Homo sapiens: one gene and its partners. The protein of the gene in region 2 purifies or fractionates together with the protein of the main gene of each other region. This does not show direct contact. Each region holds a gene or a part of one and is shown on either strand. Other genes may lie near its edges. The genes, in order: OGDHL, KGD4 and OGDH.

What was found.
Region 1: the proteins of KGD4 (region 2) and OGDHL purify together in Homo sapiens (co-immunoprecipitation; 2 studies listed by BioGRID and IntAct, with this or other methods). This does not show direct contact.
Region 3: the proteins of KGD4 (region 2) and OGDH purify together in Homo sapiens (co-immunoprecipitation; 2 studies listed by BioGRID and IntAct, with this or other methods). This does not show direct contact.

Annotation. Positions count from the first base shown.
Region 1 is NC_000010.11:49,759,259-49,767,193, reverse strand, and holds the start of OGDHL (2-oxoglutarate dehydrogenase-like, mitochondrial), read left to right. Parts: upstream 1-4,870; 5' UTR 4,871-4,955; intron 4,956-5,194; exon of another isoform or gene 5,195-5,225; intron 5,226-7,935.
Region 2 is NC_000005.10:69,220,659-69,227,762, forward strand, and holds part of KGD4 (alpha-ketoglutarate dehydrogenase component 4), read left to right. Parts: intron 1-5,679; coding exon 5,680-5,743; intron 5,744-7,104. UniProt on the Homo sapiens protein: Molecular adapter that is necessary to form a stable 2-oxoglutarate dehydrogenase enzyme complex (OGDHC). Enables the specific recruitment of E3 subunit to E2 subunit in the 2-oxoglutarate dehydrogenase complex (OGDHC).
Region 3 is NC_000007.14:44,693,537-44,700,640, reverse strand, and holds part of OGDH (2-oxoglutarate dehydrogenase complex component E1 isoform 1 precursor), read right to left. Parts: intron 6,817-7,104; coding exon 6,637-6,816; intron 6,218-6,636; coding exon 6,065-6,217; intron 4,617-6,064; coding exon 4,514-4,616; intron 4,213-4,513; coding exon 4,084-4,212; intron 3,728-4,083; coding exon 3,577-3,727; intron 3,272-3,576; coding exon 3,144-3,271; intron 3,038-3,143; coding exon 2,859-3,037; intron 2,450-2,858; coding exon 2,378-2,449; intron 501-2,377; coding exon 372-500; intron 1-371. UniProt on the Homo sapiens protein: 2-oxoglutarate dehydrogenase (E1o) component of the 2-oxoglutarate dehydrogenase complex (OGDHC). Participates in the first step, rate limiting for the overall conversion of 2-oxoglutarate to succinyl-CoA and CO(2) catalyzed by the whole OGDHC.

The DNA of each region.
Region 1 (7,935 bases), on a different chromosome or scaffold from region 2:
CTGACAAAGTCTAGCATCTAGACTATGCAAAGAGCTCTCAAACTCAACAGTAAGAAAAAAAAAGAGTGATCCAATTAGAAAAGGTCTAAAGGACATAAAGAGACATTTCTCCAAAGAGGATATACAGATTACAAACACACACGTGAAAAGATGCTCATTAGCCATCAGGGAAATGCAAATTAAAACCGCAATAAGATATCATGACATACCTATCAGGATGGGTAACACACAGCACCAAATGCCGGTGAGGATGCAGAGAAACTGTATCACCTACACATTGTTGATGGGACTGTGAAGTGGCACATCTACTCTAGAAAAGAGCAGAAGGTTTATAAAAAATGAAACATGCAACTACCATACGACCCAGCAATTGCACTCCAAGGCATTTACCCCAGAGAAATGAAGACTTATGTTCACACAAAAATCTGAACATAAATGTCCATAGCAGGTTTATTTGTAATAGCCAAAATCTGAGCACAATCCAGATGCCCTTTATGAGTGAATGGTTAAACAAACTGTGGTACATCCATACCATGGAATACTACTCAGCAATAAAAAGAGACAAATGACTGATTCACACAACAACCTGCATGAATCTCCGAAGAACTATACTGAATGAAAAAAAGCTAATCCTAAAAGCCTACCTACCCTATAATGCCACTTACATATAACATTATTGAATGCAAAATTATAGAGATGGAGAACTGATTAATGGTTTGGAGGGGTTAAGGAGGAGGTGATGTGGGAGGGAAATAGGTGTGGCTATAGAAGGGCATTTTGAGGGATCCTTGTGGTGATAGAAATGTTTTATATAGTAGTTTGTGCTTATCCTGGGGAGATACGTTCCAAGGCCCCCATGGATGCCCAAATCCTCACATAGTATCAAACCCTATATATACCCTGTTTTTTCCTATACATACCTATGATAATTTTTTTTTCTTTTTCTTTTTCTTTTTTTTTTTTTTGAGATGGAGTCTCACTCTGTTGCCCAGGCTGAAATGCAGTGGCACTCTTTCAGCTCACTGCAACCTCCACCTCCTGGGTTCAAGTGATTCTCCTGCCTCAGCCTCCCGAGTAACTGGGATTGTAGGCAACCATCACCACACCCGGCTAATTTTTTGTATATTTAGTAGAGATGGGGTTTCACTATGTTGGCCAGGCTTGTCTCAAACTCCTGACCTCAGGTGATCCACTTGCTTTGGCCTCCCAAAGTGCTGGGATTACAGGTGTGAGCCACCATGCCTGGCCCATACCTATGATAAAGTTTAATTTATAAATTAGGCCTAGTAAGAGATTAACAACAATAAGTAAGACTATAAAAGAAAAATTATAATAATAGACTGTAATCAAAGCTATGAAAATGTGGCCAAAGCATCTATAAACAAAGTTAAGACAAGTGACAGACTGGGAGAAATGTTGCAACATTTACAACCTACAAAATATTCTTATTCAGAATATGTACAGAGTTTATGTGAATTCAAGCAAAATATAAACAACCTGATAGAAAAATGAGCAAAGTCTATCAATAGGCAATTTGTAGAAAAAGAATACAAAATAAGAAACATATAAAAAGAAACATATAAAAACATATAAAAAGATTTTCAGGCCGGGTGCGGTGGTTCATGCCTATAATCCCAGCACTTTGGGAGGCCAAGGCGGGCAGATCACTTGAGGTCAGGAGTTCAAGACCAGCCTAGTCAACATGATGAAACCCTGTCTTTACTAAAAATACAAAAATTAGCTGGGCATGGTGGTGTGTGCCTATAGTCCCAGCTACTTGGAAAGCTGAGGCAGGAGAATAGCTTGAATCCAGGAGGCAGAGTTTGCAGTGAGCCAAGATCACGCCATCGCATTCCAGCCTAGGTGACAGAGCGAGACTCCACCTCAAAAAAAGAGAGATTTTCAAACTCGCTTATCAGTTTTATGCTAACTAAAACAAAATGTGATTTTTCACCTATCAGACTGGCATAAATGAAAGAAAACTGATAATAAATCTTGGCAAGGATGTAAGGGAGTGGGAACTCAAAAACACTAATGAGGAAGTATTCAGTGGAACGGTCTTACTAGATATTTATTATACATATTAAACTGCAAAGAATATATATCTTTTGACCCATTGTTAAACTTAATTTAGAAATCAGGCTGGGCATGGTGGCTCACTCCCATAATCCCAGCACTTGGGAGGCCAAGGTGGGGGATGATGAGGTCAGGAGTTCAAGACCAGCCTGGCCAACATGATGAAACTCCATCTCTACTAAAAATAAAAAAATTAGCGAGGCATGGTGGTGGGAGCCTGTAATCCCAGCTACTCAGGAGGCTGAGGCAGAAGAATTGCTTGAACCTGGGAGGTGGAGGTTGCAGTGAGCTGAGATCCAGCCACTGCACTCTAGCCTTGGTGACAGAGCAAGACTCCATCTTGAAAAAAAAAAAAAAAAAGAAAAAAAGAAAGAAAGAAAGAAAGAAAGAGAAATCAATGTTACCATAGTAGTTTTGCATGTACTAAAGGGAATATATAGGAGGACTCTTTTCTCCTTTTTTTTCTGTAAATGTCAAAAGAAATGGAAATGTTCATTCAATGGGAGAGAAGTGACATACAGTCACCATACATCCCTATAATGAATACAACATACCCATGAAAAAGAATGAGGTGGTCCTACACATACTGAGTTTAAATAAAAATCTTCAAGACAAGGGAAAAAAAGAAACAAGTCGTGGAACTATATTCTAGTGTGATCCATTTCATATTTTTATGTATATGTTTGTAGAAGCATATGGATATAAATACATAAACAATTTTGTAAAAATGTTTGCCAAACTGGCCAGTAGTTATCTCTGGAAGGAAAAAAAAGAGGTGAGGTTGGGGCAGGTGGAAGGGGGCTTTTCACATTTTGTTCTGTATCCTTCTGTATCATTTAAGTTCTGTACAACTAGAATAAATAAAAACTTCCATGTTCTGACACACACACACACACACACACACACACACACACACACACGCCACAGGCATGGGAAAAAAAGAAAGGTGTCTGTTTCTGAAGATCTCTGCAAAGCCTACAGCCACTGCCACTAATCCTCTCAGGCTTCTGAGAATGGCAGCCACCCTCATGGGAGCGTTGATTGCCCCAAATGTTTGCTTTAATCAATGCAATTAGCAGAACACCAATTAGGCTGGAAGGCTGAAAGGCTCTGAAGCCTTTTGATTTGCAAGAGCCTTGTTCCTGCCTGCTGCTCTGTGTCAGGCTTTCCATCTTTCTTAATCGGTGACTCTGACTTGTAAACTTTTCCACTATTACCCCAAACTGCAGCTTCTCCTTTTCCCTAGCTCACTGAGAAGTTCCACTGTGCCCAAGTCACTAAAGCCAGACACCTGTGAGTTATCTATGTCTCCACCCTCATATCTGGTCAACCACTAAACCCCGTGGAGCTGATCCCCGTAAGTCTCTCAAATCTGGCCACCTTACTCCGTCTCTACTGCAAGTACATTACTGCCTCTCACCCGGAATTTGAATTTTGAAAAACAGAAGAGCCTTGAAGAGACAGTTCCTCTATGGCTCAGCCCTGCTTCCTGAAGTAAATTTTCAGCTTTCCTCTGATTCTGTGAGTTGCCTTATATACAACCTTCATATCAACTCGTTTTCGGCTGAAGCTAGCCAGGTCATTTTTGGTGCTTGTGTCCAAAGAATTCCCAATGAACCCTGCCCTTCTGCACCAGATAAAATCTTACTCATCCTTCAGGATCCAAGTCAAGTGTCCATTTACTCACTCAGTCATTCATTCAACAAATATTTACTGAAAAATACCATGATAGTGCTGTGTTAAGTGCTGAAGATTCTTGACCACATGTATCCCTAACTGTCTCCAAATAAAGAACTTTTGGGAGACTTCAGGTGCAGAAGTTAGTTGTATTCCTTTCTTCGTGGCACTCTGTCAGCAGTGATCTGGGTAATTGATTAATTACCTCATATCCACATTCCCCATCCTCCTCCCTCGACAAGCAACCATATTAATTGGTTTGATATGTACTTGAATATATTCTTGTGAAGTGCATACTGTAGTTTTGAGATTAAAATTCAAGAGTGTAAGTGTAGAAGCAGAGAAGCCAGTTAGGAGGCTGCTGCGATAATCCAGGAGAGATTTGATGGCAACTTGAACCACAGGTATGTTATGTTCCTATACAAGAAATCCCTGCATTTAAATGAGAACAAAACCCAACAGAAAGCTGAAAAAAATACAACAGAAAACCCCAAACTAACAAACAACGGGAGATGCAAATGGTTGATAACCAGAGAAATGCAGATTAAAACAATAACAGGACATTGCATCTGCTATTCTGATAATAATTAGAAAGTTGATCTCTATCCCAGAGAAAGTTCCACGCAGGATCCTAAGGGAATGTGTATGAAGAAGTTCATTGCAGCCTTGTTTGTGGCCACGGGGTGGTGAGGACAGCCTGGGTCACCATCAGTGGGAGGATGAATGGGTAAAATGTGTATCAGATTTGGGGTAAGCACTTTTCACGCATTATCTCATCTTTTTTTCAAAACATCCCTAAGATAGTGGAACTTTTCATAGCATTCCCATTTTACAGACGACAAAACAAAACCTATCCTCTCCTACACACAAAGGCTGCTTGTCGTCTGGTACATTCGTCCTAGTTTTAGGACGAGCACACGGGGTTCAGGGCCTCAGCCCCGTTCTGCGGTCTCAGAGAGGAGTCCCCCCTTCGGCCGTGGGCGACCTCGGGCCTGGGCCGCCAGCACCGTGGACAGCGCCAGGAGCGGGGCGGGGCATCCATGGAGACGTCACGACGCGCGGAGTCTCAGGGGCGCGCGCCCGTGGGCGGCTGCGTCACGTGACCCAGGTAATTGGCACGGCGCGCGCGCACCCCTTCCGCGCAGCCCCCTGACCTGCAGCCTCCGGACCTCGCTGCAGCGCGGACCCGGCCCGCCCGCCCGGTGAGCGCGGCGGCCCGCCCCCTCCCGGTCCCTGCGCCGCTGCTTCTCCTGCCGTCCTGGGGACCGGCCCCACAGCTCCTCTCTCCTGGGTCCTGGGGCGCCGCTGCCCGCAGCCCTGAGTCTGGCCCCGCCGGGGGGAGGGGGAGGAGGAACAGACTGTGACCTTGGCTCTGACCTTGGCTGGCCGTGGCCTCCCCCGGGACCCCCAGCCCATCGCGCGCGTACCACCCGGCTAGTCCAGGGTCCTGCGCAGAGGAGCGGGTGCTCGCGGTGGGTTTCTCCAGCCCGAGGACTTCAGACTGCCCCGCGCCTTCCGTGGCCAGGGGAGGGCCCGGAGCTGCGAGGGCTGTGCGGGGGATGGGGAGGGTCAGCGCTGTGCACCTGGCGGGACCCATAGGCAGCTTCGGACTACCAAGGAGCCTAATAGACGGTTTTAACCGCGGTCTCCGATTACAGATGAGAAAACTGAGGCCTGAGAGAGGGCGGCATGGCCTGAGGTCGCTGCTTGCATGGGATGCGCTTCTTCCGCCCCCCGGGAGATGTGGGAGGGGGACGGGGTAATCCCGAGGCCACAGCAGGCTGCAGTACGCATTCGCCGAACCGGAGAGACCCTTTGACGCCCCTCGGCCACCTGGCTCAAGCAGGCCCTAGCAGCCCCTCCCCAGTGTCTTGGAACAGGCCCCAACTAAATAGAATTGCGGTTTGTTGCTGAGCAAAAGCTCATCTGCTTCTCAGAAAGTGGGGTCAGAGTAGACCTGCTGCTGAGAGAATCCAGGCTCTGCTGCTGCCCAGCTTGGAGGGCCCTCTGGGGAGAACCCTTCCCGGCCTCTGTTTACTGATCTCTGCAATGGGTGCATTAGGGAGTAGTCCTCACTAGGGCACCCCAGACAGGGTTGTGTGTGTGGGAGTCTTAGTGGCCATGGTGTCGGCAGTTTTCTGGGGTTGGGTTGAGGTTCTGAGGTTGGGTTGGGGATGCTATGTGACCTTGTCCTCAGAGAAGAGACCCCCAAGAGATACCCAGGGCAACTCTGCTGGAGTCTGGACTGGGCAGGGGGTTGCACAGGGCACCTGACTCTCACTCCTTGTTGCTGTCCTTGACTGTATGGGCAGGAACTAGTAGGGCTGGCTTGGGCTCTGGCTCTAGATACTGAGCCCTCATGCCCTGCTGGGATGCAGGTGGGGGTGGGTGGCAGGCTGCCCTCCTGCCAGGCTGGGTCAAGGTCACAACAGTGCCCAGTGGCCAACCCAGACTGTTTAGTGTTTATAAAACAGTGTTCCTGCACCGGGCCATTCTGGACACAGCCAGACTTTGTCCCTATCTGGCCCAAACTGCCCCATTCCCCTGTGGGGGTGGGAGTGGCGCTGGCAGAGGGAGCAGCTCTGGCTCAGCTGATGGGAACTGCATCGCTAAGAGAAATCTGGCTTACATATTGACTGCAGTGATCAGGGCACAGTCGCTGGAACCCCACACAGCCCTGTCACTCACCAGATTAGCCAGCTTAGCCTCTTGCACCTCAGTTTCTCTGTTTATAAAGTGGAACTGATATGAGTGCCCACCCCATGGGATGTTGGGAGGATTAAATGAGCACAGTATCTGTCCTAGAATCAGTGCTCCTGACGGTGCCTATTATGTTTATTCCCATGACGATGGTCTTGATATCTAGTTTCCTTTGCCATAGACTGGGGATGATAAAGCGTCCTGGGTTGTGGATTCTTTTTGATGCTCTAGAAGATTCTCCCTGATGCTTCAGGAGCTCCTGGGCCTAGTGGCCAGCTGGGCTGGCACGACCTTCTCTTTGCCCAGGCCTCTAGGATAGTCAGAGGTGGAACAGGAGTTGGGACCCTGGCTGCCTGACCCCAGAGCTCATGCCTGGCACTTGGAGAGGTGCTGCTCCCAGAGGAGCCGGCCCCAAGTGCCCCGCGCTCTAGGGCTTGGCATCACTGGCTCGTGGGCTGGGCCACATGACCCGAAGCCTCAGGGGCTGAGCATTGGGGAGGGAAACTTGGGGGCACTCAGAGGCTCCCAAGCTCACCTCCCTCCTCCCTGCAGTGGAATCTTTTTTGTTTTGAAAATTTTCTCTGTTCAGGCTTGCTGCTGGTTGCCCCAGGAGCCTGTCCTCCCTCCATTGAGGTGACATCACCCCTTTCCTCTGGCTCATGTGAGTTAGAAGGAGGGCTGTGCCCTGCCCTCTGGTGGGGCCTGACCTTTTGTGGAAAGTCCAGCCAGTGAGTTTCTGGTGACATGGTTGAGCTGATGGCAGGGGTGAGGCAGAAGGGTGCAACAGGTGTTGGCTGAGCACACCTGACCAGGAGCGTTGGCTCAGGGCCTGGCCTGGGCAGTACTTGGAAGCCAGTTATACCCCAGAATGCACATTTTCTGGGGCCTGAGCTGTCCAGGGGTAGGGGACTCCTCCCGCCTGGGCGACCCCTTGTGGGGTGGTCCTTGCACCCAGCTTACAAGCTGGGCGGTCTGGGCAGGAGGGCATTAGCTGGTATTCATGGGGAGCTGCTCTATGGCAGTGGCTGTGCTGGAGCAGAGGAAGGGGTTCTGCTCACAGTTGTAGGGTGGGGAACAGAGGTCCCACTTTACACATCATGTGTAGGATGAGGTGGCAGGGGTATGGGGTGATCTGGGACCTCAGTAGGCCCTATCAACCCCTAACCTGCCTGGATAGGGATATCTGGGGGGTTCTCCAGGATTGGCAGAGGGCTCTTAGAACTCTTACCGTCTGCGGAATAGAGAAAGCCCCCATCACTGAAAGCCCAAGATTTAGATATTTTCCCTGGGAAGGCACAGGTGACAGAGTGAGGTGAGATGAGCTGCAGGGCCTGGTTCCCCGTGGTCTGGGTGGGCTTCCAGTCTGTACCTGCCTGGACTGTTAGCTGTCTTGAGTGGCGCTGGGCTGGGCCTGGGGCTGCCTTCCATTCTACTCTTCCTGCCCCTCCAGACCTTAGCCCTTCCTGCAATGAAGTGGGGCTA
Region 2 (7,104 bases):
TTCTGCAGGTGTACCCAACAGCTCTGAAGAGACAGCAACCATCGAGAACGGGCCATGATGACGATGGCGGTTTTGTCGAAAAGAAAAGGGGGAAATGTGGGGAAAAGAAAGAGAGATCAGATTGTTACTGTGTCTGTGTAGAAAGAAGTAGACACAGGAGACTCCATTTTGTTCTGTACTAAGAAAAATTCTTCTGCCTTGGGATGCTGTTAATCTATAACCTTACCCCCAACCCCGTGCTCTCTGAAACGTGCTGTGTCCACTCAGGGTTAAATGGATTAAGGGCGGTGCAAGATGTGCTTTGTTAAACAGATGCTTGAAGGCAGCATGCTCGTTAAGAGTCATCACCACTCCCTAATCTCAAGTACCCAGGGACGTAAACACTGCGGAAGGCCGCAGGGACCTCTGCCTAGGAAAACCAGAGACCTTTTTGTTCACGTGTTTATCTGCTGACCTTCTCTCCACTATTATCCTATGACCCTGCCACATCCCCCTCTCCGAGAAACACCCAAGAATGATCAATAAATACTAAAAAAAAAAAAAAAAATTAGCCAGGCAGGAGGGGTAGTGTGTGGGTGTGTACCTGTAGTCCTAGCTACTTAGGAGGCTGAGGTGGAAAGATCACTTGAGCCCAGGAGTTTGACGCTGCAGTGAACCACGATCACTCCACTGCACCCCAGCCTGTGTAACAGAGCAAGACCTGGTCTCAAAAAATAAATAATAAAGTAAAACATTTTCAGACTGGCTAACAAATGAAAATCCAGTGCTATGCTATTTATAAGAGGCATAGCTAAAACTAAGATTTGGAAAGGTAAAAATAAAGAGATAGTCAACTGATCTTTGACAAAACGAGCAAAGGGAATACAATGGAGAAAAGATAGTCTTTTCAACATGGTGCTGAAAAAATTGGATATCCATCTAGACACAGACCTCACGTTCTTCACAAACATTAACTCAAAATGGATCCTAGACCTAAATGCAAAATGCAAAACTATAAAACCCTTAGAATATAACATAGGAGAAAATAAAAATAACCTTAGGTTTAGGAATGACTTTTTAGATATAACACCAAAGGCATGATCCATGAAAAATTAATTGATAAGCTGGACTTCATTAAAATAAAAAATTCTGCTCTGTGAGACACTGTCAAAAAAAGGCAAGCCACATATTGGGAGAAAATACTTTCAAAAGACATATCTGATAAAAGACTATTATAGAAAACATAAGGCTGGGCACGGTGACTCATGCCTGTAATCCCAGCACTTTGGGAGACCAAGGCGGGCAGATCACCTGAGGTCAGGAGTTCGAGACCAGCCTGGCCAACATGGCAAAACCCCATATCTATTAAAAGTACATTTGTATAAGTATATAATACATATTTACATGCCTATACAGTTAGACCTAACTTACAAATGGTTTATTCACGTATTTGGCAACTGTTACTTGGGCATTTACCATGTAACAGGAATGCTACTGCAGAAGTGCTTAGTTTTCTGTCTCTGACTGTCCAGGAGCTTAGTGCTCTTCTATAATCATTGGCTAACTTATCTGTCCTCTGAAAACATAAGGAGAGTTTTTAACTCAGACTTTGGAATTTGGGAAAGGTTCTTAGAGAAGAGTGACATTTGAGCTGTTGTAAAGGATAAGCAGTCAGAAGGATAGGCATGGAAGTGGAATGGGATAGGAGGGAGATTTCATGGCAGAGGACGTAAGCTGTAGATGGAATGAGGATAAATAGGATGAATTGGGGAAAGGAAAAATACTTCAGAATACTTGGAGCAATGGGTACATAAGACAGTAGGGGAGAAAGGCTGGCAAAGTAGGGAGAGGCCAGATCACAATGGGTGTTGTGAGTGCCAAAGAAGAGTTTGAACTTTATCCTGAAAGCTGTGGAACATTTTTCAAACTTCTTTTTTTTCTTCTTTTAAGTTGTAGAGAGGGAGTCTCATCTTCTTGCTCAGGCTGGTCTCAAACTCCTGGGCTCAAGCCGTCTTCCCAAAGTGCTGGGATTACAGGCATGAGCCACTGACCTCAGCCAGTTTTCAAACTTCTAAATAGGGGAGTGATGATAGGATAGATAGAACATTCTCTTAAGAAGCTTGGCTATGAAAGTGAAGAAACAGTTAATAGAGAAGTTTTTTTTTTTGAGACAGAGCCTCTCTCTGTCACTCAGGCTGGAGTGCAGTGGCTCGATCTCGGACTTCCACTCCAGGGTTCAAGCAATTTTCTGCCTTAGCCTCCCGAGTAGCTGGGATTACAGGCGCCCACCACCACGCCCGGCTAATTTTTTTATTTTTTTAGTAGAGACAGGGTTTCACCGTCTTGGCCAGGCTGGTCTTGAATTCGTGACCTCATGATCCACCCGCCTTGGCCTCTCAAAGTGCTGGGATGACAGGCGTGAGTCACGGTGCGCAGCTTTTTTTTTTTTTTTTTTTTTTGAGACAAAGTCTTGCTCTTTCACCTAGGCTGGAGTGCAGTGGCACAATCTCGGCTCACTGCAACCTCTGCCTCCCAGGTTCAAGCGATTCTCCTGCCTCAGCCTCCCGAGTACCTGGGACTACAGGTGTGTGCCACCACGCCTGGCTACTTTTTTTGTATTTTTAGTAGAGACGGGGTTTCTCCGTGTTAGCCAGAATGGTCTCGATCTCCTGACCTCATGATCCACCCACCTCGGCCTCTCAAAGTGCTGGCATTACAGGTGTGAGCCACCATGCCCGGCCGAGAAGTTTTTTAGCATGGAAGACTTGAGCATGATTTTATGGTGAGGGAGAGAACACATTCCAGCATTTTCTCACAGCCACAGAATTACAGTGGTGAATTTTTAGGCCAATCCCATACCTATTTGCTTCTGTGCCCACATAAAATGCATAATATGTACTACAAATATATAAATATATTGCAGATAAACCCACCTCAGTCTTATTCGTTACATAGCAATTTATAGATTAGTTGAAAATAGTACTTTGTTCATTAGATTCTTAGCATTGTATATTCAGAAGATTTCATATTGACAGGTCCATTTAAGGTCCTCTGTACCACTATCTGGAATTTTACGGACAAAAATGTTAATACTTTTCAAACATCTGTTCCAAAAACAGTATTCCAAAAATATGTATTCCAGGCCAGGCATGGTGGCTCACGCCTGTAATCCCAGCACTTTGGGAGGCCGTTCGAAACCAGCCTGGCCAACATGGTGAAACCCTGTCTCTACTAAAAATATAAAAATTAGCCGGGTGTGGTGGCGGGCACCTGTAATCCCAGCTACTTGGGAGGCGGAGGCAGGAGAATCACTTGAACCCTTGAGGCGGAGGTTGCAGTGAGCCATGATTGCGGCACTGTACTCCAGTCTGAGTGACACAGCAAGACTCTGTCTAAAAAAAAAAAAAAAAAAGTATTCCTATGGGTATAGGAAAAAGACTAAAATAAAGTGCTATCAAATGTTTTAATTTGGGCCGGGCATGGTGGCCCATGCCTGTAATCCCAGCACTTTGGGAAGCCGAAGCAGGTGGATCATTTGAGGTCAGGAGTTCAAGACCAGCCTGGGTAAAATGGGGAAACTCCATATCTACTAAAAATACAAAAATTAGCGGGGTGTGGTGGCGCAGGCCTGTAATCCTGGCTACTCAGGAGGCTGAGGCAGGAGAATTGCTTGAACCTGGGAGGCGGAGGTTGCAGTGAACAGAGATTACGCCACTACATTCCAGCCTGGGTGACAGAGGAGACTCCATCTCAAAAAAAAAAAAAGTCTTTTATTTGTTTTACGTGGGTCTTGGGATTATAGTGTTTTCTTCTTTGTGCTCTTCTGTGTTCTTCCAAATGTTTTACACAGAATTTGTGTTACTTTTGTAGTCAAAAAAAGTATTCTTTAATTTTCTAATTTTCAAAATGATTGTTTTTTCTTCCCTGTTAGGTATTAATATAGTAGGGAAATAACACTCAAAACAAGTCAGGAGGCCAGGTGCAGTGGTTCATGCCTGAAATCCTAGAACTTTGGGAGGCTAAGGCAAGAAGATTGCTTGTACCTAGGAGCAGGAGGCGGAGGTTGCGGTAAGGCCACATCATGCCAGTGCACTCCATCCTGGGCAACAAGCCAGACGCTGTCTCAACAAAAAATTTAAAAAGTCAGTAAATTTCTGCCGGGTGCGGTGGCTCACACCTGTAATCCCAGCACTTTAGGAGGCCAAGGTGGGCGGATCATGAGGTCAGGAGATTGAGACCACCTTGGCTAACACGGTGAAACCCCGTCTCTACTAAAAGTGAAAAAAACTAGCCGGGCGTGGTGGCACGTGCCTATAGTCCCAGCTACTCGGGAGGCTGGGGCAGGAGAATCGCTTGAACACAGGAGGTGGAGGTTCCAGTGAGCTGAGATCGTGCCGCTGCACTCCAGCCTGGGCGACAGAGTGAGACTCCGTCTGAAAAAAGAAAAAAAAAAAAAAGGCAGTAAATTTCCAGTGTTTTTTCTTTGAGATGGGGTCTCACTCTGTTGCCCAGGCTGGAGTGCAGTGGCAAGATCTGAGCTCACTGCAACCTCTGCCTCCTTGGTTCAAGTGATCCTCCCACCTCAGCCTCCCAAGTAGCTGGAACTACAGGCACATAGCACCACATTTTTTTTTTTTTTTTTTTTGAGACGGAGTCTCGCTCTGTGGTCAGACTGAAGTATGGTGGCACTATCTCTGCTCACTGCAACCTCTGCCTCCTGCGTTCAAGCGATTCTCCTGCCTCAGCCTCCTGAGTAGCTGGGATTACAGGTGTGCACTACCACCATGCCCTGCTAATTTTTGTATTTTTAGTAGATACGAGGTTTCACCCTGTTGGTCAGGCTGCTCTCGAACTCCTGACCTCGTGATCCACCTGCCTCAGCCTTCCAAAGTGCTGGGATTACAGGTGTGAGCCACCATGCTCAGCCACCTTTTTTTTTTTTTTTTTTTTTAAGATGGAGTCTCACTCTGTAGCCCAGGCTAGAGTGCAGTGGCACGATCTCAGCTCACTGCAACCTCTGCCTCCGGAGTCCCGGTTGGTTCAAGCAGTTCTCCTGCCTCAGCCTCCCAAGTAGCTAGGATTACAGGCACGCATCACCATGCCCAACTAATTTTTGTATTTTTAGTAGAGATGGGGTTTCACCATGTTGGCCAGGCTGGTCTTGAACTCCTGACCTCGTGATCCGTCCGCCTCGGCCTCCCAAAGTGTTGGGATTATAGGCGTGAGCCATCACACTGGGCCTTGTTTTTCTTTTTGTTTTTGTTTTAATTTTTGGTAGAGACGGGGTTTCACCATGTTGCCCAGGCTGGTCTCAAACTCCTGCACTCACGCAATCTGCCTGTCTGGGCCTCCCAAAATGTTGGGATTACAGGCATAAGCCACTGCACCCAGCCAGCTTTCATTCTTACCAATCTATAAGTCATGCAACATAAACTCTACATCATCTCCTCCATTGGGTTGCTTTGAAGTGAAGTACACCTTCGATAGTACAATGAAGTCTTGTGATATATAAAGTACAAAGTTGTGTTTACCGGGTAGACAAGTTAATAATTCATAGACCAGCTTTCCTGGTTGGGGAAGAGTATAATTTAAAGTTGCTGTAAAATAGTAATTTTAACAAACGTATCTACTTATGAGGTTTAGTAGATCATTTCTTTTAGTTAATGAGATTGTTTTTCATGCATATTACTTTTCATTTAGGTAGTCAAACCACACACTCCATTAATAAGGTTTCCTGACAGAAGAGACAATCCTAAACCCAATGGTGAGTTGTATTTTATTTAAATTTCTTTTAAAATTGTGTACATGAATATTTATAAATGAGTATTTTATTATAGGCAATATTTCTCATTTTAAAATCAGTTAAGACTATTGTAGCTTAGATCAAAATAGTGCCTTATGTAGCATGCAAGTAGAAATTAACTTATGGCTGGGAGCGGTGGCTCACGCCTGTCATCCCAGCACTTTGGGAGGCCGAGGCACGCGGATCACCTGAGGTCAGGAGTTCAAGACCAGCCTGGCCAACATGGTGAAACCCTGTCTCTACTAAAAAATACAAAAAATTAGCCAGGCGTGGTGGCGGGCTCCTATAGTCCCAGCTACTCGGGAGGCTGAGGCATAGAATTGCTTGAACCCACGAGGCGGAGGTTGCAGTGAGCTAAGATCATGCCACTGCACTCCAGCCTGGGTGACAGGGCAAGACTTTGTCTCAAAAAAAAAAAAAATTATTACCTCTATTTTATTTTATTTTTTGAGACAGGGTCTTGCTCTGTCGCCCAGGCTGGAGTGCAGTGGTGCTATCTTGGCACACTGCAGTCTCCCCCTCCCGGGTTAAAGCAATTCTCGTGCTTCAGCATCCTTAGTAGCTGGGATTACAGGCATACACTAGCACGCCTGGCTAATTTTTGTATTTTTAGTAGAGACAGGGTTTCACCATGTTGCCTAGGCTGGTCTCGACTCCTGATCTCAGGTGATCTGCCTGCCTCCGCCTCCCAAAGTGCTGGGATTACAGGCATGAGCCACTCACCTGGCCTTTATTACCCCTATTTTAAAAGGTAGTGACTCAACAGAAGATGTCTCTGAATTTCTAGTGAGTTTATATGGGCAAAATTTTGTCCTACCTTTATTCTCTCCTATCCTTTAGAAGATTCTCCCATGCTTACATTTGCAGAGACTGGGAAAATAATAACCATTCCTGTTTCTCTCCTCACCAACCATCTTTTCTTTCATTCATTCATTTATCTATTCATCTAGTCAGTAAATATTTTTTGGATTGCCTTAATCCTTAGCATTTATTCAAAATTAATGGGAGAAGATTCTGAAAGGGTTCTGTTTTTCTCTGATTCCCGCCCTTTTTTAAAAAAACCAGATCCTCTGTGCCTCTCTTGATCTTTAATTCAGGCAATTTTAACACATTTTATAGGTATATTTTTAACTTATTGTAACTATTGAAGAATTAAGATGTTTAAACAAGTGTAAAGATATTGAGAAAACTACCCTCATTTACATTTACTGACTTTCTTATTCCTTATTGTAAGATATTACCTGTAAACTCCACCATGTGTTGGCCTATGAGGGGTTATGTGACATAAGCTTAAGTAGTGTAGGTTCCCCTAAAGGGTTGAA
Region 3 (7,104 bases), on a different chromosome or scaffold from region 2:
GGACCCTGCACTCCCTTGGCCTCTGCCAGGGCTCACCTCTCTTCCAGAGCTCAGCACACCCCCTATGACCACCTGTTCAAACATCCGTCCTCCCCACCGGGCTGGGGCCTGCAGCCTATGTGATTGCTCCGCATGTGGTGCTCAGCAGTATGCAGGGGCCCAGTCGGGGAAGAGGACACACAGAACACGCAGTTCCCTCATGGCAGCAGTGAGGAGGAAGGGCGAGGCTCCCTGACACCATGTCCTGTCCACACTACCCCTGCAGGTGCCCACCTAGCTAACCCCAAGCAAGAGGCTCTCTGAGGAGCCCTTCCCTGCACCAACAGGGCAGGGCCAGGCCTCGTTTGAGCAAGGGAGGCCCTGCCACTGACCGGCTTCCGGAATGGCAGCAGGATCTGGCGTCGTAGCACGTGGAAGAAGTTGCCAGGAGTGGAGCAGTTGACAACAACCCAATTGCAGTCATATAGCTGATTGATGTCGAAGTTGGCTTCTTTAAGGTCCTGCAGCAGGGAAGGAAATGGCCAGAGGCCAGGACACAGCACTGAGTCTTCTGGGGCATGTGGGGGCCCTCAGGTGATCTAGTTTGGATATTTGTCCCTGCCCAAATCTCATGTTGAATTGTAATCTCCCACTGCTGGAGGTGGGGCCTGGTGGGAGGTGTTAGGATTAGAGCTTGGGCCATCCCCTTGGTGATGAGTGAGCTCTCACTCTGAGTTCACACGAGATCTGGTTGTTGAAAGTGTGTGGCCCCTCTCCCCCACTCTCTTACTCCTGCTCTGGCCATGTGACATGCCTGCTCTCCCACTTCATCTTCTGTCATGATTGTAAGCTTCCTGAGGCCTCCCCAGAAGCTGAGCAGATGCCAGCATCATGCTTCCTGTACAGCCTACAGAACTGTGAGCCAATTAAACTTTTCTTTATAAATTACCCAGTCTCAGGTTTTTCTTTATAGCAACACAAGAATGGCCTAACACACTGACTCCCCAGGAGACATAAGCTGACACTAACAAGTGAGTCCAGCAAGCTCCTTCGGCCAGCCTCATACCCTGGAGGAGAGCCTCAGTCCCACTCAATCCATACTATTTCTCTGAAAGCTATTGCCCAGCATGAAACAAATACCACTTTAAGAGACACAAGTTCTACCTAAAACCAATTTTCCTTAGACACTGACACCTAATCATTTTCTTTGAGTTTTTTTTTTTTTTTTTTTTTTTTGAGACAGGAGTCTCCCTCTGTCGCCTAGGCTGGAGTGCAGTGGCGCAATCTTGGCTCACTGCAACCTCCACCTCCCGGGTTCAAGCGATTCTCTGCCTCAGCCTCCTGAGTAGTTGGGACTACAGGTGCCCGCCACCACGCCTGAATAATTTTTGTATTTTTAGTAGAGACGGGGTTTCACTATATTGGCCAGGGTGGTCTCAAACTCCTGGCCTCGTGATCCACCTGCCTGGGCCTCCAAAGTGTTGAGCTTACAGGCGTGAGCCACTGCGCCTGGCCAGTTCTTTTTTTGTGAGACGGAGCTGCCCAGGCTGGAGTGCAGCGGCACAATCTTGGCTCACTGCAACCTCTGCTTCCCGGGTTTAAGCAATTCTCCTGCCTCAGCCTCAGACTAGCTGGGATTACAGGTGGGCGCCACCATGCCCAGCTAGTTTTTGTATTTTTAGTAAAGACAGGGTTTCACCATATTGGCCAGGCTGGTCTCAAACTCCTGACCTCATGATCCGCCTGCCTGGGCCTCCCAAAGTGCTGGGATTTCAGGCTTGAGCCACCACACCCAGCACAGTTCTTTTTTTTTTTTTTTTTAAGACAGGGTATTGCTCTGTCACCCAGGTTGGAGTGCAGTGGCACGATCTTGGCTCACTGCAGCCTTGACCTCCCAAGCTCAAGCAATCCTCCCACCTCAGCCTCCCAAGTAGCTGGGACTGCAGGCGTGCACCATCACGCCCAGCTACTTTTTAAAATTTTTGTAGAGACGGGGTCTCACCATGTTGCCCAGGCTGGTTCTTTGAGTTCTTAAAGTTTCACTGGAATCGCCCCAAAGTTCTCTCCTCCTCAGGGCTTCCAGACCTGAATCAGGGTCTGGAAGCATCCCGCAGGAGCCCTTGCTGAGGAGCTCACATGGCGTTTCTGTGCTTGCAGCAACAGCAGGAAGCCAATGGAGGCAGTCCCTGCACCTTCCTCTGTGCTCTGAGGAAGTCTCTCATCCCAGGGCGCCCAGAAGCATGGGGCCACACCTGTCCACTCACGTGAGCTCCCCAGGATGGAGAAAGGGACAGAGGCACGGTCTGCCACTTCAGGATGACCAGATAGATTGCTCTTCCCCAGGTTTCCCACCAGACACCCCGAGAATGGCTGGGCTGACAGGGCCTGTATTACTCACTGGCAGGACATCTGGGTCATCGTTGCACATCTGCAAGAACCGCTCTGGGCGGGCGGAGGAATGTTCTGGACCCTGGAACCACACACGCAAGTTACAGTTTAAGAGCTCTTGCGTACTGACATTTGCCGCATCTGCTGTTCCTCCTCAACCAACTAGCTCATTTCTGGTTATCTTTTTTCTTGATGGCAGGGTTCAGTTCCTTCCCCCTCCCACCAGCAAAGCACTTGGCTCATCATTTCCACACTTGGACGCCTGTGCATCTAGGGAGTCTGCACCAGCAGGGACGGGGCATGCTAGCCACATCCAGATGGGCTACTCTGGCTTTCTGAAGTGACATCCCATCTGAGATGGATGGGAAGCACCAGCAGAGTCCTTAGGAGGCTGGTGTGAGCCACTGGCTCTCGTGCCAGTCTTTGGGGTCAGGGTCCTACACAGGCCCTTCCCAAGTCCTAGGTCTGGCAGGGAAGGGCCAGAGGCTCACCATGCCCTCCATGCCATGGGGCAGCAGCAACACGATGCCATTCTGCCGCACCCACTTGGCTTGTCCCGGGCAGATGAACTGGTCGATGATACACTGGGCCGTGTTGTGGAAGTCACCAAATTGGGCTTCCCAGAGGACCAGGGCATTAGGACTGGCCATGGCGAAGCCCAGCTCAAAGCCTACAAGGGACAAAGGAAGGAGAAAACCATGTCCAGGACACCAGCCAGTAGGCCCAGCGGGGGTGGGTGGGTGACAGGCCCTGGTGGTGTGGCTCCAGGCACTCACCCAGCACGCCGTACTCAGACAGTGAGCTGTTGCACACAGTATAGGGGGCCTGATTGGGCCAGAGATGGTTCATGGGGATGCAGGTTCTCTTGTCCACATTCTGGTCATGGAGCACATGGTGGCGGTGGCTGAGACAGGACAACAGAGGTAATAATTAGGAGCTCTGACTTGACAAGCAAATACGCTGGGGACCCGCACGAAGCACCAGCAGATGCCATGCTCTGTGACCTGGACTTCTGGCCAGGCAGCTGCAGGGTCGGCCCCACCCAGGTCTTAACAGAAGCACCCATAGCAAATGAGGGACAGAGGTTTTCAGCCTGAGAGCAATGTGACTCTTCCGGTTTCTAACCGTCTTCCGGAAAAGAAACACCAGAACCCCTCCCTTTCCATCTTCTACTCTTTGGAGGGCAAACAAAACTGCCCAGAACGTTACCTGAATGTGCCCCGCTCCACGTCCTGGCCGCTCAGCCGAATGTGGATGCCCTCCTTCAGGAGCGAGCCAAACGCCATGTACTCCGCTAGAGCCCAGTCCACAGTCCGGTTCTTCACCATTTCCCCACGAGTCTTCAAGATCCGGCTCAGCCCTGCAGAGACACAGCTCTCACCAGCTGCTGCAGGCCCTGCCTGCACATGCCTGCCTTGCTTCTCAGCGTGCCCATGGCAAGAGCGGAGCCTTCTTTACTCGTAGTTTCTGGGTTCCTGACTTGCTGGAAAAGCTGTGACCTCAGTCTCTCCTTTACCACTGAGGAAGTGTAGGATCGTGCTAAGGGCAGGGAGTGGGAGAGGTGGCTCCATCCAACCACCCCAGAGGCCTTGAGCAGGGCAGGAAGGGAGTCTCTGTAGGACACATGATGGGTGGGGGCCAAGGTCACAGTCCTAGACAGTCGTCGCCCCTGGCCTGGGCCCCAACATTTCCACAGGTCAGCACAGAGCGTGTTACCTCCATGAATAGTAAAGTTTTCCACAGGCACAGAACTAGCCACATTCCCGATGTGTGTCAGAATATCCTCCGTCAGACCCGTGGAGGGGCAGGACATGCTCCTGGGCTGCCCGTCCAGGGTGAAGAAGCCTAGGAGAAGAAGAACAACTGAGGCATGACATCTGCTCTACTTTTCCAGGGACCACAAAATGGCAGACACGTGATTTTGGGGAGAAGCAGGGTGAGAGACAATGTAGCTCACACTGTGTTCCCCAGAAAACATTAATGCAGGGGTCTGGGTCCAGGGTCTGCAGGGGGCTTTGCTGAAATGGTGCATACAACTGTGCATTGTGGGTACAAAGTGGAAAGCATGAATTTTTTCTGGGAAGAGGATGCCTCGTTACATCAGATCCTCAAAGGAGCTTATTTGTGGCACTGTTTCTTCACTCACCAGGCCAGGGAGAGTCCAGCCAGTGCTTAATGTGCAAGATCTTCTCATCTTTAGATCTGGCAAAAGCTTCCTCACAGATCTTATCATACTTGGAAATTTCCTCCTGGAGGGTTGGGCACAACACAGCGTGACTGGCACAGGGCATGACTACTGCACACGCCCACCTGTACCCCCACACTTTCTGACAGCCACCACGCAAGCCCAACCATACCCCTGGCACAACTCCCGTGCATGCCCACCCATAGTCCCACACTTCGTGGATGCAAAACATCTCAGCCTCTGGGCCTGCTCCTTCTCAATAGGCATAACACCTTTCTAAGATTTTATTCTTTTCACTCCCAAAAGTTTCTTCCTCACATTTGCTGGGTAGAGATTCTGCTCGGAGTTTGAACCCCTAACCCTTCACCACTTTTTTTTTTTTTTTTTGAGACGGAGTCATGCTCTGTCACCAGGCTGGAGTGCAATGGCGCGATCTTGCCTCACTGCAACTTCCGCCTCCCGGGTTCAAGCGATTCTCCTGCCTCAGCCACCTGAGTAGCTGGGACTACAAGTGCGTGCCACCACGCCCAGCAAATTTTTGTATTTTTAGTAGACGGGGTTTCACCATGTTGGCCAGGATGGTCTCGATCTCTTGACCTCATGATCCACCTGCCTCAGTCTCCCAAAGTGCTGCAATTACAGGCATGAGCCACCACGCCCAGCCCACCACATTTTTTCTTAAGAACTGGTCCAGGCCAGGCGCAGTGGCTCATGCCTATAATCCCAGCACTTTGGGAGGCCAAGACAGGCAGATCACTTGAGGTCAGGAGTTCAAGACCAGCCTGGCCAACACGGGGAAACCCTGTTTCTACTAAAAATACAAAAATTAGCTAGGCGTGGTGGCTCGCACCTGTAATCCCAGGTACTTGGGACGCTGAGACATGAAAACTGCTTGAAGTAAGGAGGTGGAGGTTGCAGTGAGCTAAGATCATGCCACGGCACTCCAGCCTGGGTGACAGAGCTAGACTCCGTCTCAAAAAACAAAACAAAACAAAAAAAAAACTGGTTCACAAAGCTCTGTCTCCAGCATAGGCTACAGGCTATCAGGTTGTTCTGATCTGGGATCTGTCCTGTTCCCATGCTCAGATATAGCTCCTCACACCCACCCTCTCCCTCTCTAGGGCAGCTGCTTGGCCTTCCCACTCACAACCAACCAGCACTTACTATCCAGATTACAACAGGCCCCTTACCAAGCTGGATCCACCACCCACCTCTCAACCATGCACAATTTGTGAAATCTGAGAAAACCTACTGGGCTGCTACTACCTCAACCTGAAAACATCCCCTTCCCTTCCCCAAAACACTGTTTAAGGCCCACTTCCTTTATAAAGCATCTCAGTGGCCCAGATTCTCCAAAAAGTTATGCATTGAAATGCTGTAGTTGTAAATATTTCACATCCTCTCACGTGTATCCTCATAACTGGCAAAAGTGAGAACTGGCCCTGTGGCCCACCTTTTCTAGTCATCGCCAGCCCTGGAAAGGCGCACTGGGATAGAGCCGCAGGGACGTACCTCATACTCAGGCTGGTTGACCACACCCTGCGACACCAGCAGCTCAGCGTACTTCTGTAACACAGGCTTCTGCTTGCGGATCTGCTTGTACATGAGCGGCTGCGTGAACATGGGCTCATCCATCTCGTTGTGGCCGTTGCGCCGGTAACACACCTGCTCAGAGCAGTGAGAGGATGTCAGAGACAAGGGCTGGCCCCTTGGGAAGAAGTGCTGTTCAGGCACCTGCCCCATCTCTCCTAGGTGATGGCCACGTTCTTCATTCCTCATGCCTGCCCTGGAGTTTACCTTCTCTAGAATTAGGATTCTGTGTATCTCTCCTTCACACAGTAGAGCTGCTCTGTCAATGAGGAGTGGCCCTCCTCACCACCACAGCTCCTGCCTGGGAAGCATTCCTTGGTGCTTACAGGCCTGAACTATTTGGAGCTCAAAGGAACCAGCATGAGGCCTGGCAGTAGAGAGCCCTGAGGTGACTCATCTAGACAAGCTCCTCTCCTTGGGACACAGGGGTGCCGAGGGCAAGAGGGGTGGGTCAGATGCTCTGCCCAGGACGTGCTGTCCCCAGAGTCACTCACCAAATCGACAACCACGTCCTTGTGGAAGGTGCTCCTCCACTCGGCCGCCACTTTGCACACGTACATGACAGCCTCGGGGTCATCTGAGTTCACGTGGAAAATGGGGGCATTCACCACTCGGGCCACGTCAGTGGGGTAGGGGGAGGAGCGGGCCATCCGAGGGTCGGTGGTGAAGCCGATCTGCAAGGAACATGTAGCCTAGCAAGAGGGCACCTGGCACAGCCGGCACAGGGACCAGAGGGCGGGGCTGAGGCCGGGCATGGCATGCACTTGCCATCTGGCTACTCTGAGTACGTACCCCAAAATGGCTGTTTACACTTTTTCTTTTCCTTTGTTTTTTCCTATTCTGATAACAAAATCCATATATATTTAACATAGAGAATTTAAAAGACATAGTATGAAAAGTTAAATTAAGTTACCTATAATTCCACAGGCTATGGGGTAAATATTCTGATGTTTTCCTTTCCA